Linked DNA regions of Homo sapiens. The protein of the gene in region 4 interacts with the protein of the main gene of each other region in a pairwise test. Each region holds a gene or a part of one and is shown on either strand. Other genes may lie near its edges.

Region 1 (3,500 bases), on a different chromosome or scaffold from region 4:
ACTTACTAAGCCAGGATCCCCACCCTCAGTTTCAGGAAGTAACATTTATTGAGCACCTACTAGGTGCTAGGTACTGGGCTAGGCAGTCCCTTCTTAGAAATGTTTTCTCATTACGACTCATAACTATACTACAATATTAATGTTTTTATTCCGAAGTTACAGAGAAGGAAACTGAGGTTCAAGGTACTTTGCCCTAGTTGTCACTAATGGTATGTGGTACAGCCAGGATTTAAACCTGGAGACTCCAAAGTTGATGTTCTGTAGGAGAGAGAGTGGCTGCTTCCCGGGCATGGCCTTCGAAGGCCTAAGGGCCGCTCAGCTCCCATGGTTCACGTTCAGAATGGGACATGCCCAGCTCCCCGTTATTATTGAAAAGAGGATTGTCTTTCCCTTTGGGCTTTAACCACCACAAGCACCTGATCTGCCTTTGACCCAAGCTGACACTGGGCCACCCCAGCTGACCCTAGTCATCACTATGGCAGTAGGGAGTCACAAACACAGCACACGGAGTCCAAAGTCCCAGAATCTTGTCCTGGCTCTCTCCCGAACAAGGTGTGACCTCAGGCAAGTCATTTCCTGTCTTAGATTGGTGTTTATCTCATCTGCAAAACATAAGCGCTCTGCCACATGTCTGCATCTTCCTCTGTTCCAGCCTAGTCCACCCCTCTCCCTGCAGGGTTCCTTTCTCAGCTCCTGTCCCTCCCCCGCTAGCATCTCCCCATCAGCCCCTGGGGTCTCCCCTGAAGATTCTGCTCCCAGCTGTACTCCAGTCCTTTAGAGGCCCCAGTATGTTGGGATCTCAGCATCAATCCGACTGGCCCAGTCTTCCCCTCCAGCCCTACCTTGCTGGGGACCTGGGGCTGGGGTCCAACTGTGAGGGAGGAGGGAGGTAACCAGTCCTCTTGTGCGTTTCAGTCTGTCCCAAGTTCCTCGTGGACTCCAGCACCAAGGACTTGCTGACAGTCAAGGTCGGGGACACAGTTCGTGTGCCCGTCTCCTTTGAAGTGAGTGTACCTGCAGGGGTGTGGGGAGGGAAGCCCAGAGAGGCCAAGGGGGCCAGACTCAGCCCTGTGGCTCTCTTTTCTTCCCTGTTCCTTTTTGGCCCCTAGTCAGTGCTTGTGGAAATCACTGACTGGGCTTGTGGAAATCAGGTGAGAGACATGAGGCAGGAAGGATTCAGGTCCTCCTTGAAGGTACTGCCCTCACTTGGCGGCTGGGTGGCCATTCTGCTCCAGGCCTGCAAATCCCTCTAGTGGTAGCTTCAGCTACTGCACCTCCAAACTAAGGCTCTTCGGTTCTCCACCTCTCCTAGTCTGGGAATTCAGGGAGCCGGTCGTGCAGATGATCCCCTTTGACTTCACAATGTATTTTTGTGCAAGCACATGACCTATATTTGACTCAGGGTGATCCTTAACCAACACCAACACCACCTGACTTTACAACAGTAGGGTGGTGGCTAAAAGTACAAACTGCCTGGGTTCAAATTTTGATGTCATCACTCACAGCCGTTTGACTTTGGACAAATATTATTTATTTATTTATTTATTTATTTATTTATTTATTTTGAGATGGAGTCTCACTCTGTCACCCAGGCTGGAGTGCAGTGGCACGATCTCGGCTTACTGCAACCTCCACCTCCCGGGTTCTAGCGATTCTCCTGCTTTAGCCTCCCAAGTAGCTGGGATTACAGGCGCATGCCATCACGCCCGGCTAATTTTTGTATTTTTAGTAGAGATGGGGTTTCGCCGTGTTGGCCAGGCTGGCCTCTCAAACTCCTGACCTCACGTAGTCTGCCCACCTCGGCCTCCCAAAGTGCTGGGATTACAAGTGTGAGCCACTGTGCCCAGCCAGAACAAATATCTTAACATCTCTGTGTTTCACCTTCCTCATCTGTCAAAAGGGGATAATAATAGTAACCTACCTCAAAGGTCTGAGGGTTCAAGGAATTAATATATTGAAAGTGTATATGTAGGGCCTGGCATATGACAGCACCCAATATGTTTTAATATTATTATTGTTTAAAATCATCATCATCTGTGTAGGAATTCAAACCAGTCTATCTTACTCTAAATGACTTGTTCTTAACCACAATAATGACAATGATAATGATGGCAAAAATATTTAATGCACATTGAGTAGTTACCATGTCCTAGGCCTTGTTCTCTCTGCTTTCCGTGTATTTATTATTAACGCCTTAAATTCTCAGAACAATCCTGTGAGGTCAGTTAGTGACTATCAGCATCTTCGTTTGACTCTGGTGCCCACCGTGCCCTGTACTGAGGGCCCCGTAGGGAGTTGACGGCATGGTCACCAAGCAGCTGGGCTGGCCTTCCCACCCTGCTCAGGGTCACCACAGTTCAAGGCCAGGACACCGCAATCTTCCTCCTAGACTATTGCCAAATTATCTCCTACATGGTCTTGGCTGCCAGGGTGGTTAACACTCCCCTCCCCACACATCCCTTCTCATTCCCATCCCACCCCCTGCCATGTGAATCCAGAACTCATTATGCTTTCCTGCTCAGAATCTGACAACAGCGGCTCCTGGCTGAGAGGATAATGTCCAGATGTCTGTAGAGGTGTGACGTGGAGGGCACTTTGCATTTTTGCCGAACCTCTTCGTCCAACTTCCTTTCTTGTTCTACCGCCCCCCTACCATACCCGCCTGCCAACCTCACACTTTATCACCACCCCTCTTTCCCACCTGTGTTTTCTTGTCGACGTTGTGTTTTCTGGTCGACTTTCTCCTTGTAGAAGACTCTTCTCACCGCTTCTACCTTTGGCCTAGCTTAAATGCCATCACCTCCATGAAACTGCCAGCTTCCCCTTCTCAACTTTTCCTTCCTCTCCTTTCTCAGGCCATGCCCATGCCTGAGGTGACCTGGCTGAAGGATGGCTTGCCCTTGCCCAAAAGAAGTGTGACTGTCACTAAGGATGGCCTCACCCAGCTTCTGATCCCTGTGGCTGGACTCTCAGACAGTGGTCTCTACACTGTGGTGCTGAGGACCCTGCAGGGGAAGGAGGTTGCCCACAGCTTCCGTATCAGGGTGGCAGGTGAGGCAGGCCTTGCTCTGGGCTCTGGACGCTGGCTCGGCCACTCACCAAGGCAAAGAGGTGTCCACTGGTCTGATCATAGGTCTCAGCCACTCTACCAGGGCTGGGTATGCAAAGTGACCATTCTCCACCTTTCCTCCATGCTTGATGATAGAAAGTAGAAAGGACCCCAGAAGATCCCCTGGGGACTTCCATTGTCCTTCTGCCTCAGGAGCCTAGAGACAGTCATGTCATGTCTCCTCTCCGACCTCAGTTATCCTTCCCGTTGAGTCAGTGAGCAGAGGCGGTTACCACTGTTACATCACTCCAAAGACCCAGGGGACAAAATTGTCTGCAGCCGTTGCACAGGATAAAGGCTTTCCTCCCCAGCTGTGGCTCCACACAGCCCCTGCCCTGGAGGAGCTTCTGGATATCCAGAAATGATCAAATAGACTAACAGTGGGGGCTCT
Region 2 (3,500 bases), on a different chromosome or scaffold from region 4:
AGCAACTGCACCCGGCCTAAATGTTGGATTTTTAATGTGTTCCTTTAAGGAATAGTGATTTCATTATCTTCTGTTATTTTAGGAAAGAGTTTGGGACCAAATAAAGTTTCTTGGGTTACTGTAATTCTCTAGGCAAAATGAAGTACATATGATACTATGAATAAAAAGTTGTGAGACTATAAAAGGGGAGAGCTATATAGAAGGGGGATAGAAAATAGAGTGGATAAAATATTTGTAAGGGGCTGGGCACAGTGGCTCACACCTCTAATCCCAGCATTTTGGGAGGCTGAGACGGGAGGATCAGTTGAACTCAGGAGTTTGAGATCAGCCTGGGCAACATAGTGAGAGCCCCTTTCTTTTTCTTCTTTTGTTCGTTTGTTCTTTCTTTTTTTCTTTACTTTTTTTTTTTTTTTTTTTTGATGGAGTCTTACTCTGTTGCCCAGGCTGGAGTACAGTGGCGCGGTCTTGGCTCACTGCAAACTCTGCCTTCCGGGTTCAAATGATTCTTCCATGTCAGCCTCCCAAGTAGCTAAGACAGGCGCCTGCCACCACGCCTGACTAATTTTTTATTTTTAGTAGAGATGTGGTTTCACCATGTTGGCCAGGTTGGTCTCGAATTCCTGACCTCAAGTGATCACCTGCCTCGGCCTCCCAAAGTGCTGGGATTACAGGTGTGAGCCACCGTGCCCGGCCTTGAGAGCCCATTTCTATAAAAAATTTAAAAACTTAGCTGGGTGGGGTGGTATGCATCTTTAGTCCCTGCTGCTTGTGGGGCTGAGGTGGAAGGATCGCTCAGGAGGTTGAGGCTACAGTGAGCTGTGACTGTGCCGCTGCACTCCAGCCTGGGCAACAAAGTGAGACCTTGTTTCAAAAAATAATAATTCATATGGAGAGTCTTTATTCTCACAACAACAATTTATTGAGTGTTTACTGTGTGCCAGCAGTGCTCTAGTTGCAGGAACTATAGTGGTGAATAAGACCAACAAGGCCACCTGGTGCTTAAGGAGCTTAGACATTTAAACCTGAGGTTCGAGTTGGATTTCCAGGTGAGCATGCCAGGCTAGGGCAGCCTAACCAAAGTCATGATTATCAGTGCACTTGAATGGTTAAGTGGGGCCAGTGCCTTGAGTTTTCAAAAGGAATGGATAGGGCAGATGGAGATAGGGCCAAGTTGCAAAGGTACCTTATTAGTCCGCTAATGGGTTGGGAATTTTCTTCTTTTTGGAGGAAAGAATTCCAGGTAGAATGTGAAGAATGAGATAGGCATTCCTTTTATTTTTATTTATTTATTTTTTTTGAGACAGAGTCTCACTGCGATGCCCAGGCTGGAGTGCAATGGCACAATCTCCGCTCACTGCAATCTCCACCTTCTGGGTTCAAGTGATTCTCCTGCCTCAGCCTCCCGAGTAGTTGGGATTGCAGGCATGTGCCGTCATGCCAGGCTAATTTTTGTATTTGGTAGAGACAGGGTTTCACCATGTTGGCCAGGCTGGTCTCGAACTCCTGACCTCGGGTGATGCACCACCTCGGCCTCCCAAAGTGTTGGGATTATAGGCGGGAGCCACCATGCCTGGCCCTGACATAACTTTTTAAAGATTTTTCTGGGGCTACGTGCAGTGGCTCATGCCTGTAATCCCAGCACGTTGGGAGGCTGAGGCCGGTGGATTGCTTGAGCCCAGGAGACCAGCCTGGGCAACATGGCAGAACCGTCTCTACAGAAAAATTAAAAGATTATCTGGGTGTGGTGGCACACGCCTGTAGTCCCAGCTACTCAGGAGGCTGAAATGGGAGGAGCAGTTGAGCCCAGGGGTTTGTGGCTGCAGTGAGTGGTGATCATGCCACTGCCTGAGACTCTTTCTCAAAAAAAAAAAACAACAAAAATATTTTTCTTTATTATCCTTAAGTTGAGTGAATACAAATTTTTTTTGAGATGGAGTTTTGCCCTTTCACCCAGGCTGAACTGCAGTGTCAGGATATCTGCTCACAGCAACCTCTGCCTCCTGGGTTCAAGTGATTCTCCTGCCTCAGCCTCCCGAGTAGCTGGGATTACAGGCGCGTGCCACCACACCCAGCTAATTTTTTATATTTTTGGTAGAGACGAAGTTTCACCCTGTTGGCCAGGCTGGTCTTGAACTCCTGACCTCAAGTGATCGCCCACCTTGGCCTCCCAAAGTGCTAGGATTACAGAGGTGAGCCACTGAGCCCAGCCCAGTGAATATAAATTTTATTGGTTTTATTTATTTTAGTTTGGTTTATTTATTTTGATTTCTTGGTCATCAGATTAAATAAATCTGATAGTTATTTTTCTTTAGTTGTCAATTTCCAGTCTTGGTTTTGAGTTTGACTGTTGTCATGATACTCTTCTGAATCCTTTTAGCCTTTACCTGTACCTCTTTTCCTTACTTTTTCAGAACTCTTATGATTCCACTTAAAGAAGCAGTGTTTTTTACTTCTGTGTGGGCAGCTTCTCTCAGCAGAAGTGGGATTGATGTTCAGTCAGTCAGTTTTCACACTCAGCCTACAGGGCCTTGTAAAAGTAAGGAGCAGGAGCAGGGTGAAACTAAAAAGTAATCTTGCTTTTTTAAAGTTATCTTTTTTTTTTTTTTTTTGAGACGGAGTTTCGCTCTTGTTGCCCAGGCTGGAGTGCAATGGCGCCATCTCCGCTCACCGCAACCTCCGCCTCCTGGGTTCAAGCGATTCTCCTGCCTCAGCCTCCCGAGTAGCTGGGATTACAGTCATGTGCTGCCACGCCTGCCTAATTTTGTATTTCTAGTAGAGAAGGGGTTTCTCCATGTTAGTCAGGCTGGTCTCAAACTCCCGACCTCAGGTAATCTGCCCGCCTTGGCCTCCCAAAGTGCTGGGATTACAGGTGTGAGCCACTGCGCCCGGCCTAAAGTTCTCTTCTATATTCCTGAACTGCTAGGAGAGGAAACTATGTGATCTATGTGTTATACAGATTTATCGGAACATATTTGTAGCAGCTGATAATAGTAAATGTGATTTTAAAATACTTTAAAGTAGCCAATATAACTGAGATTTGATAAGTTGTTTGATTAGTTGTTAGGAATTTTGGCTTTAATTTACAGTGTTTTAAGTTTTGTTTCTGTTCTCTTTCATGTCTGTTCAAAATAAGGGACCTCATTCCTCTTTGCTCAGACTCTGCCACTTAATAGGTAGATGGTGTAAATTCCTAAATTATTAACTTGACTTTAAATAATTTTAAAACCTACCTAAATGAGTATTTTCTAGTTAAGTGACAATTAATCTAAAGTGGAAATCTATCAGCAGGGACTTAATGCATATGTGGTATTTATACCTGGTTAAATTAAAAACCCATTTACTGAGCATTTACATGCCAGGTGGTAATGGGCACATAAAATAAGCAGTTTGGGGCAGGGCACGGTGGCTCACGCCTGTAATCCCAGCACTTTGGGAGGCCGAGGCGGGCGGATCACCTGAAGTTCGGAGTTTGAGACCAGCCTGACCAACTTGGAGAAACA
Region 3 (3,500 bases), on a different chromosome or scaffold from region 4:
AATAGAGCAAGAGTCCGTCTCAAAAAAATTGTGTTTTAATCATTCTTTATAATATTAACACAATAGAATGTGAATCCTGGGAATTTATAAGAAAAATGTTCATTTTAAAATACATTCTCTATGACATGTAGTGCTTCCATTTGTTCTGTATATATTGTATTTCTTTCTCTTTAGTTGGTGCAAAGAAACAGGTTAATATGCAGAAGAAATCCATATAGGATCTTTGAGTATTTGCAACTCAGCCTAGAAGAGGTATGTTTTCAACATATTATTATTTCAGCCATCGGTCTCTGGGCCTGAACTACACTATATGTGAACCTACCTCACAGTGTAGTTCTGTATGTAATTCAATTATTGAATATTGTAATTCAGTATTGAAATCACTATGGGTAGCTCCCAAGTAGGCCTGCCTTTCACTCCTCAGCCTTTATTTCATCAGTTCTAAGATATGTGTTTGCAATCATTCCACAGAAGATTCGAGGGGTTTTTCTGAGTACTTCTTTTCTCATTAAGATTTTAGATTGTTAGGCCGGGTGCGGGGGCTCACACCTGTGATCCCAGCACTTTGGGAGGCCAAGGCAGGAGGATCACCTGAGGTCAGGAGTTCGAGACCAGCCTGGCCAACATGGTAAAACCCTGTCTCTACCAAAAATACAAAAATTAGAGTGATTGCTCATGCCTGTAATCCCGACTACTCAGGAGACTGAGGCAGGAGAATTGCTTGAACCCGGGAGGTGGAGGTTGCAGTAAGCCAAGATCGTGCCATTGCACTCCAGCCTGGGTGACAGAATGAAACTCTGTCTCAAAAAAAAAAAAAAAAAAAAAGGCTTTATGTTGATGGCTAGGTGTGATGGCTTATGCCTGTAGTCCAGCCACTTGTGTGGCTGACGTGGGAGGATTGCTTGAGCCCAGGAGGTCACGTCTGCAGTGAGCCACGATTGCACTACTGCGCTCCAGCTTGGGCGAAAGAGTGAGACTCTGTGTCAAACAAAAAAAAGAATAAAAAGATTTCAGATTGTTAACAGATGCTGACTGGTGATGCCGGGGGTAGGGGGGTGGAAAGAAGAAAAAAGTGGATTTCGGATTGGCTGAATATTTTGTTACTAATTTTCACTAGCTTTTTCAAAAATACTATAATTCATATACCATACAATTTATCCACTTAAAGAGTACAAGTCGCTATTGTTTGGTATATTCATGGAGTCTCTACTTTTCATATACTGTGCTACATGATTCAGATCATGTAGTGACTGCTAGTTAAGTAAATGGATTTATTTCCTTCTGCAGGATCCCTCTACTTAATGCAGTAGCTACATTCTTGAAAGTTAGCTTGGGCCTGGTGCCATGGCTCACACCTGTAATCCCAGCACTCTGGGAGGCCAAGGCAGGCAGATAGCTTGAGCCCAGGAGTTTAAGGTCAGCCTAAGCAACATGGCAAAACCCCATCTCTACAAAAAATACAAAAATTAGCCAGGTGTGGCGGTGCATGCCTGTAGTCTCAACTACTTGGGTGGCTGAGGTGGGAGGGTTGCTTGAGCCTGGGAGGTCGAGGCTTTAATGAACCGAGGTCACGCCACTGCACAAGCGAGATCCTGTTTCAAAAAAAAAAAAAAAAAGTGGCTAAAAGTGGCCTTCCATAAACTGCATCATATTGTCCCAGTGACCTGGAGTTCCTCTAACCTGTGGTCACTTTATGCTCAGACCCTCTTTTCTTGCTTATGTTGATAGTGCACACAGAAATGTCTTTTCTGCCTTTGAAGCTAGGACCGCTTCTTGGGCTCCCCTCTTCTCCAGGAGCTCTGTGATGGCTTTCTTTGATAGTTCCTGCAGTGTCCAGTGTGGTTCTTGGCATACAGGTAGGTCCCAAGAAGTGCTATGGAACACATCCATGTTGGTAATTTTATAGCTGAGACCACAGGAAAGTAATTGTGGGGGCCGGGCGCCGTGGCTCACACCTGTAATCCCAGCACTTTGGGAGGCCGAGGCGGGTGGATCACGAGGTCAGGAGATCGAGACCATCCTGGCTAACATGGTGAAACCCCATCTCTACTAAAAATACAAAAATTAGCTGGGTGTGGTGTCACACACCTGTAATCCCAGCTACTCGGGAGGCTGAGGCAGGAGAATCACTTGAACCCGGGAGGCGGAGGTTGCAGTAAGCTGAGATTGCACCACTGCACTCCAGCCTAGGTGAAAGAGTAAGACTCCGTCTCTAAAATAAAATAAAATAGAATAAACAATTCAAAATTCCTTTTCTCGGTTGCACCAGCCACGTCTCAAACACTGAACAGCCACGTGTGGCCACTGGCTACTGTATTGAACAGCAGATGCGTAGGCATTCCCAGCACTGTGGAGCGCTTTATAGCCCACATGTACCCGTTCTTAGATGTTTGGCCTGTCAGAACCTCAGATTTCTTCTCTGTAAAGTGGGGGCTATGTAACATCTTGTTCATAGGATGTTCTGGAAATTAAATAATACATGTAATTGGGTCAGGACAGTACCTGATAATATAGTAAATGCTCAATAAATGTTAGTGCCTGCTATTTTTGTCATTATTAAGTTACTTGTAAAAGCTAATTAGCAGCTTGTTGGAACCTTCTTTTTTACAATCACAAAAATGCCCATTGGGTACCTACTATGTGCCAGGCATTGGGCTAAGTGCTACCGATACTGAAATAAGTAGAATGTGACTTTGGTCTTAAAGATAGCCCAGAAATCATTACAGTTCAGTGTGATAAGCATAGTGTGGCATATGGATCTTGTCAGTATCGCTCTTCCTGTTTCCTTGGGCCCAATGCCTGACATCTATTAGGTGCGTAATACTTATTAAATGAATGAATGTACAAGATAGGGAATTTGCATCGAAGCTGGTGGAGACCATCTTGCAGGGCTGAGGTGGAAAGCTTTTGCAGTCATGATAGCTGAGGATAGTAAAGGATAAATGGGGCTTGCCACATGGACACAGGGTAGTAAAGGCTCTTCCAGATAGCTCTGCCAAAACGAATGCCAGATGGGGGAGGGTGTGTCCATGAGTCAGGGTCTGGCCTGGTCCTGGGCCAGCAGGGCACTGCAGGGGATTCCGTAGGGGAGTGGCAGTGACCAGAGCTAGCATCAGTATGGAGGGTGGGCTGGAGGCCTGGCCTGGGAGGTGGCAGCTGTAGGCGAAGGGTATTCCGTGTCAGATGCTGGGAGTTCAGCTGCACTGTTCCAGTTGACCAGCTGCTGTCTTTTATTGACAAATTTTTTAAAGGCTGCTGCTGCCTGCTGCCTCCTCTTGAACACCCCCTGATGAAAGGCAAGAGTAATAGGAGACAGGAGATGAGGTTACTCTGCCTTCTTAGAAGCTGCCTGGCACCTGAGAACATTTCAGAGATGTGTTCCAGAAGTTTTCAGGGAGCACACCGTTAAACCTAGCTCTACTTGTCTTTCTGTTTTGGCAGATTTCTTTTGAATGAATCACCTATGTTTGGTGCACTGCATGTACCCGCGGAGTGTTTCT
Region 4 (3,500 bases):
TGGTAGCAAAGTCCCTTTATTAGTGCAGAGGTAAAGGGGGATTGCTACTGAATATACTCTTTATCTTGGAATGCTTGCAAACCTCAGGTAGGGAGAGGCTGACAACTAGCCTGATACTCTACAGTGGTTTCCAGGTTCATGATTGACAGTCTCTTTTTGGGATATCCATTATATTCAGTAAAGCAGGACTTTGGCCATAACAGAAGCAGAGGGGACACAAGAAGAAAGTTGATATTTTTTAAAGTGCTTATTATTACAAAACTTTAAAAATTTGCCTTAGTATTTCAAACAGGTCAGCAAAAGAAACAGTTGTAAAAGCACACTGTTTTAGATCTTAGCAATAAGCCTTCTTACTAATGGCTAAAATATGAGTAGAGCCTTACTGCTGTGCTTGCTCTGTAGAAACTTCATTGATTTGTGAAGTAAATTAGATTAATTTGGTTAGCAAAAACCTTGCCCCAGTTTTCCCCATTATTACAGAGATGCCTGTTTTAATGACTCAAGCAAGTGCAGTCAGGACAGTCATAGTTTCTTATGTGTATTGTAGAATTAGTGATTGTACGGAGCCTGTGACAAACTCTACAGATTGCTTTTTTGGGTAAATCCTCATTTGTTTCTGTTTTCTCAAAAGTAGAGCACAAAATAGGGAAAACATTTGGATCTTGCAGTTTTTATAATCTGCTTTCACCATTCATCTGCTATCCAGTGCTTGGTGTTTACTAAGCCAGTGAGCGTTCATGAATCTCTAAGAGATTTTCAACAGTGTGTATTTTATTAACACTACACTTTTATTTTTATTTTTAAATATAAGTTTATTTTAATCAGTAAACATGTGGAAAGGGTACGTGAATACTAGAAGTTGAGGTAGGATCATTGATTGGACCTATGATGAAATGATAGGTTTGTTATAGGTGGAGAAGAACAAATAGGCTGAGCCATTTCAAGTAGACCAGCTAAGATTTTACATGGTTTGAGAGATTTGAACAAGCTTGTAACAGAAGCCCAAGAAGACAGGCTGGGTCTGGGATCTGTGGAAATGAGTGAGAGGTAGAAGTTGTTGGATAGTGGTTCTCTTTTCTGGTTGCATACAGGATTGAGATTACTTGGGGCGATGTAGGGGCAGGGCTATGTATATTCGTATACACACCCACAGACACACATGCACACACTCCCAGGCCCCAATCCCAGAAAGTTGTTGTCATCTATTTTTTTTTTTTAAAGGCCCCTAATGATTCTAATGTGTAACCAGGGTTGAGAAATGCTGGTCCAGGGGATTAGAAGGGCAGGAATGTAGGCACAGAGATGTTAGCGTCAGGTTTAGTTATAGGACCCCAAAACCTAGGGAGAGGGGAAGAGATGAATGGGATGGGCTAGGTTAGGGAGGAGAATGATGAAGCCCAAGGGTTCTACATAGGAAGGAAATGTTAATTGACCCATAGCCAGTAAAATACTGACTTTTAACTGTTCTTGTTTCTGTTTCTTAGTGTTTGTTACTAGGAGCCAGCAGGTTTATATTGGCAGCGTGTGCACAAAAACACCTCTGGTTCATTTGCTTTTGATTTAAATAGAAGCAGAGGGCTAGGCTTTCCAGGAGAGTTAATTTTTGGTTTTGGTTTTTTAACTTTTAAATGCCCATATAACTTTCTGAGCCAAATGGGTTTTAGTTATTTTTCCAGTTTGTCTGTATTTTTATATTTAATCAATTTTTAAGAAGTTCCAGTATTTACAAAGTATATATTTTCTTAATTATGACATGCAAATATTCATGAAACTTATATTAAATATTATGTATTTTCTGAAGGCATAAGTTTATTCTTAGTTGGTATAATTTAACTTGTATGAATTACTTGTTTCAGATTCACAATGACATCCTTTCAAGAAGTCCCATTGCAGACTTCCAACTTTGCCCATGTCATCTTTCAAAATGTGGCCAAGAGTTACCTTCCTAATGCACACCTGGAATGTCATTACACCTTAACTCCATATATTCATCCACATCCAAAAGATTGGGTTGGTATATTCAAGGTAAGAAAGCTTTCTGAATATGTTCTCCATGTAAACACTTAAAATTTTCTTTTAAAACAGATTGATAAGTAGCTTTTACTTGCCTTAACTCTGCATTAAGACTCATTTTTGTAAACATCACCATGAAATATTTAACAGTGGGGAGTAGATAAAATGGATGTTGGGAACTCCATTTCACCAGATTTTCCTCTCCCTGATCAGAAAGTTTACCTTCACTTAAGGACTTGTGAAAATTTTTTCAGAATCTTCTTTTCCTATTTTCTCCATTCATTACCTGCAATAAAAAAAGATCTTTTTCTTTGGGTTCTTATATTATTTACCATTTTTTCCAGTCATTTGAAATTAATTTTATACAGCTTGACAGCCATGTTATTATCCCTTCTACTGTCCTGCATGGCTTAAATATTGCTCAGATTGTATTACACAGTTTTAAGAGTATTCTGTTTGTATTACACAGTTTTAAAGTATTCTGTTTAACATGACTGAATAGTAAACTCTTTGATGGCAGGAGTTCTAGTTCTTATATTTTACCAGTGATTTTGTATAATACTTTCTTGAAAATGAAGGTGATCATTACAGTGGTACACCTCACTGTGCAGGACTTTTTCTGGCAATTTTAACTCTTCAAAATGTAGTGGAAAACCAAAACATAAGAATGTCCTCTGAGCAGTCAAAATAATGTCACGAATGTCCAAACAGTAAAACACATTCACTTTTCTCCTGTGTTATTCTGTAGTCTTCCTCAGAATCAGTTTGTTTTATTTTAGTTAAGATTTTTATGGGCTTGAAATTTTGATTGTCTAATCTGTATAAAGTTAAACAACAAGGAAGAAAGAAATGAATAGCTGCTAGAAATTAGGCACATTGAAAGTGTCTAGAAGTAAAAGTCCAGCCTGACGGGAAGGCAGAAAAACATTTGGACAAAACAATTTTGGCATTTAATGACTTAGTTCCTTTCTTTGAATTCCTCATTTCTTGATGTTTCTGAATACAACACAATAGTTATTTACTGTTTACTTTTTGTGTCAGTTTTTTAGGCTTGTCAAATCCCAAAATGGAGAAACATTCATTGTAACAATTTTATGAAATTAGGAGTAGTTTTTAAATTTTATTTCTTATTTTTTGAGACAGGGTCTTATTCTATCACTCAGGCTGGAGTGCAGTGGTGGGATAGTGGCTTACTGCAACCTGACCTCCTGGGCTCAAGTGATCCTTTCCCCGCAGCCTTCCAAATAGCTGGGATTATAGACACAACACCACGCCTGGCTAATTTTTAAAATTTTTTGTAGAGACAGGGTCTCACTATGTTGCCTAGGCTGGTTTTAACTTCCTAGGCTTAAGTGATCCTCCTGTCCCAGCCTCCCAAAGTGCTGGGATTACAGGTGTGAGCCACCGCACCTGGCCTCAGTAGTAGTTTCGATTTTATGGGAGATACTGGTATCAAGTTAAAGATACTGATTGAGAACTGATGTTTT

Evidence for each region.
Region 1: the proteins of TAX1BP1 (region 4) and IGFN1 interact in binary tests that used the Homo sapiens proteins (3 or more experiments, as listed by UniProt).
Region 2: the proteins of TAX1BP1 (region 4) and ARK2N interact in binary tests that used the Homo sapiens proteins (3 or more experiments, as listed by UniProt).
Region 3: the proteins of TAX1BP1 (region 4) and TSEN2 interact in binary tests that used the Homo sapiens proteins (3 or more experiments, as listed by UniProt).

What each region holds. Positions count from the first base shown.
Region 1 is NC_000001.11:201,221,824-201,225,323, forward strand, and holds part of IGFN1 (immunoglobulin-like and fibronectin type III domain-containing protein 1), read left to right. Parts: intron 1-915; coding exon 916-1,004; intron 1,005-2,855; coding exon 2,856-3,051; intron 3,052-3,500.
Region 2 is NC_000018.10:46,177,034-46,180,533, forward strand, and holds part of ARK2N (protein ARK2N), read left to right. Parts: intron 1-3,500. UniProt on the Homo sapiens protein: AMPK substrate important for exercise capacity and skeletal muscle function.
Region 3 is NC_000003.12:12,504,980-12,508,479, forward strand, and holds part of TSEN2 (tRNA-splicing endonuclease subunit Sen2), read left to right. Parts: intron 1-174; coding exon 175-252; intron 253-1,728; exon of another isoform or gene 1,729-1,856; intron 1,857-3,500.
Region 4 is NC_000007.14:27,746,662-27,750,161, forward strand, and holds part of TAX1BP1 (tax1-binding protein 1), read left to right. Parts: intron 1-1,856; 5' UTR 1,857-1,863; coding exon 1,864-2,025; intron 2,026-3,500.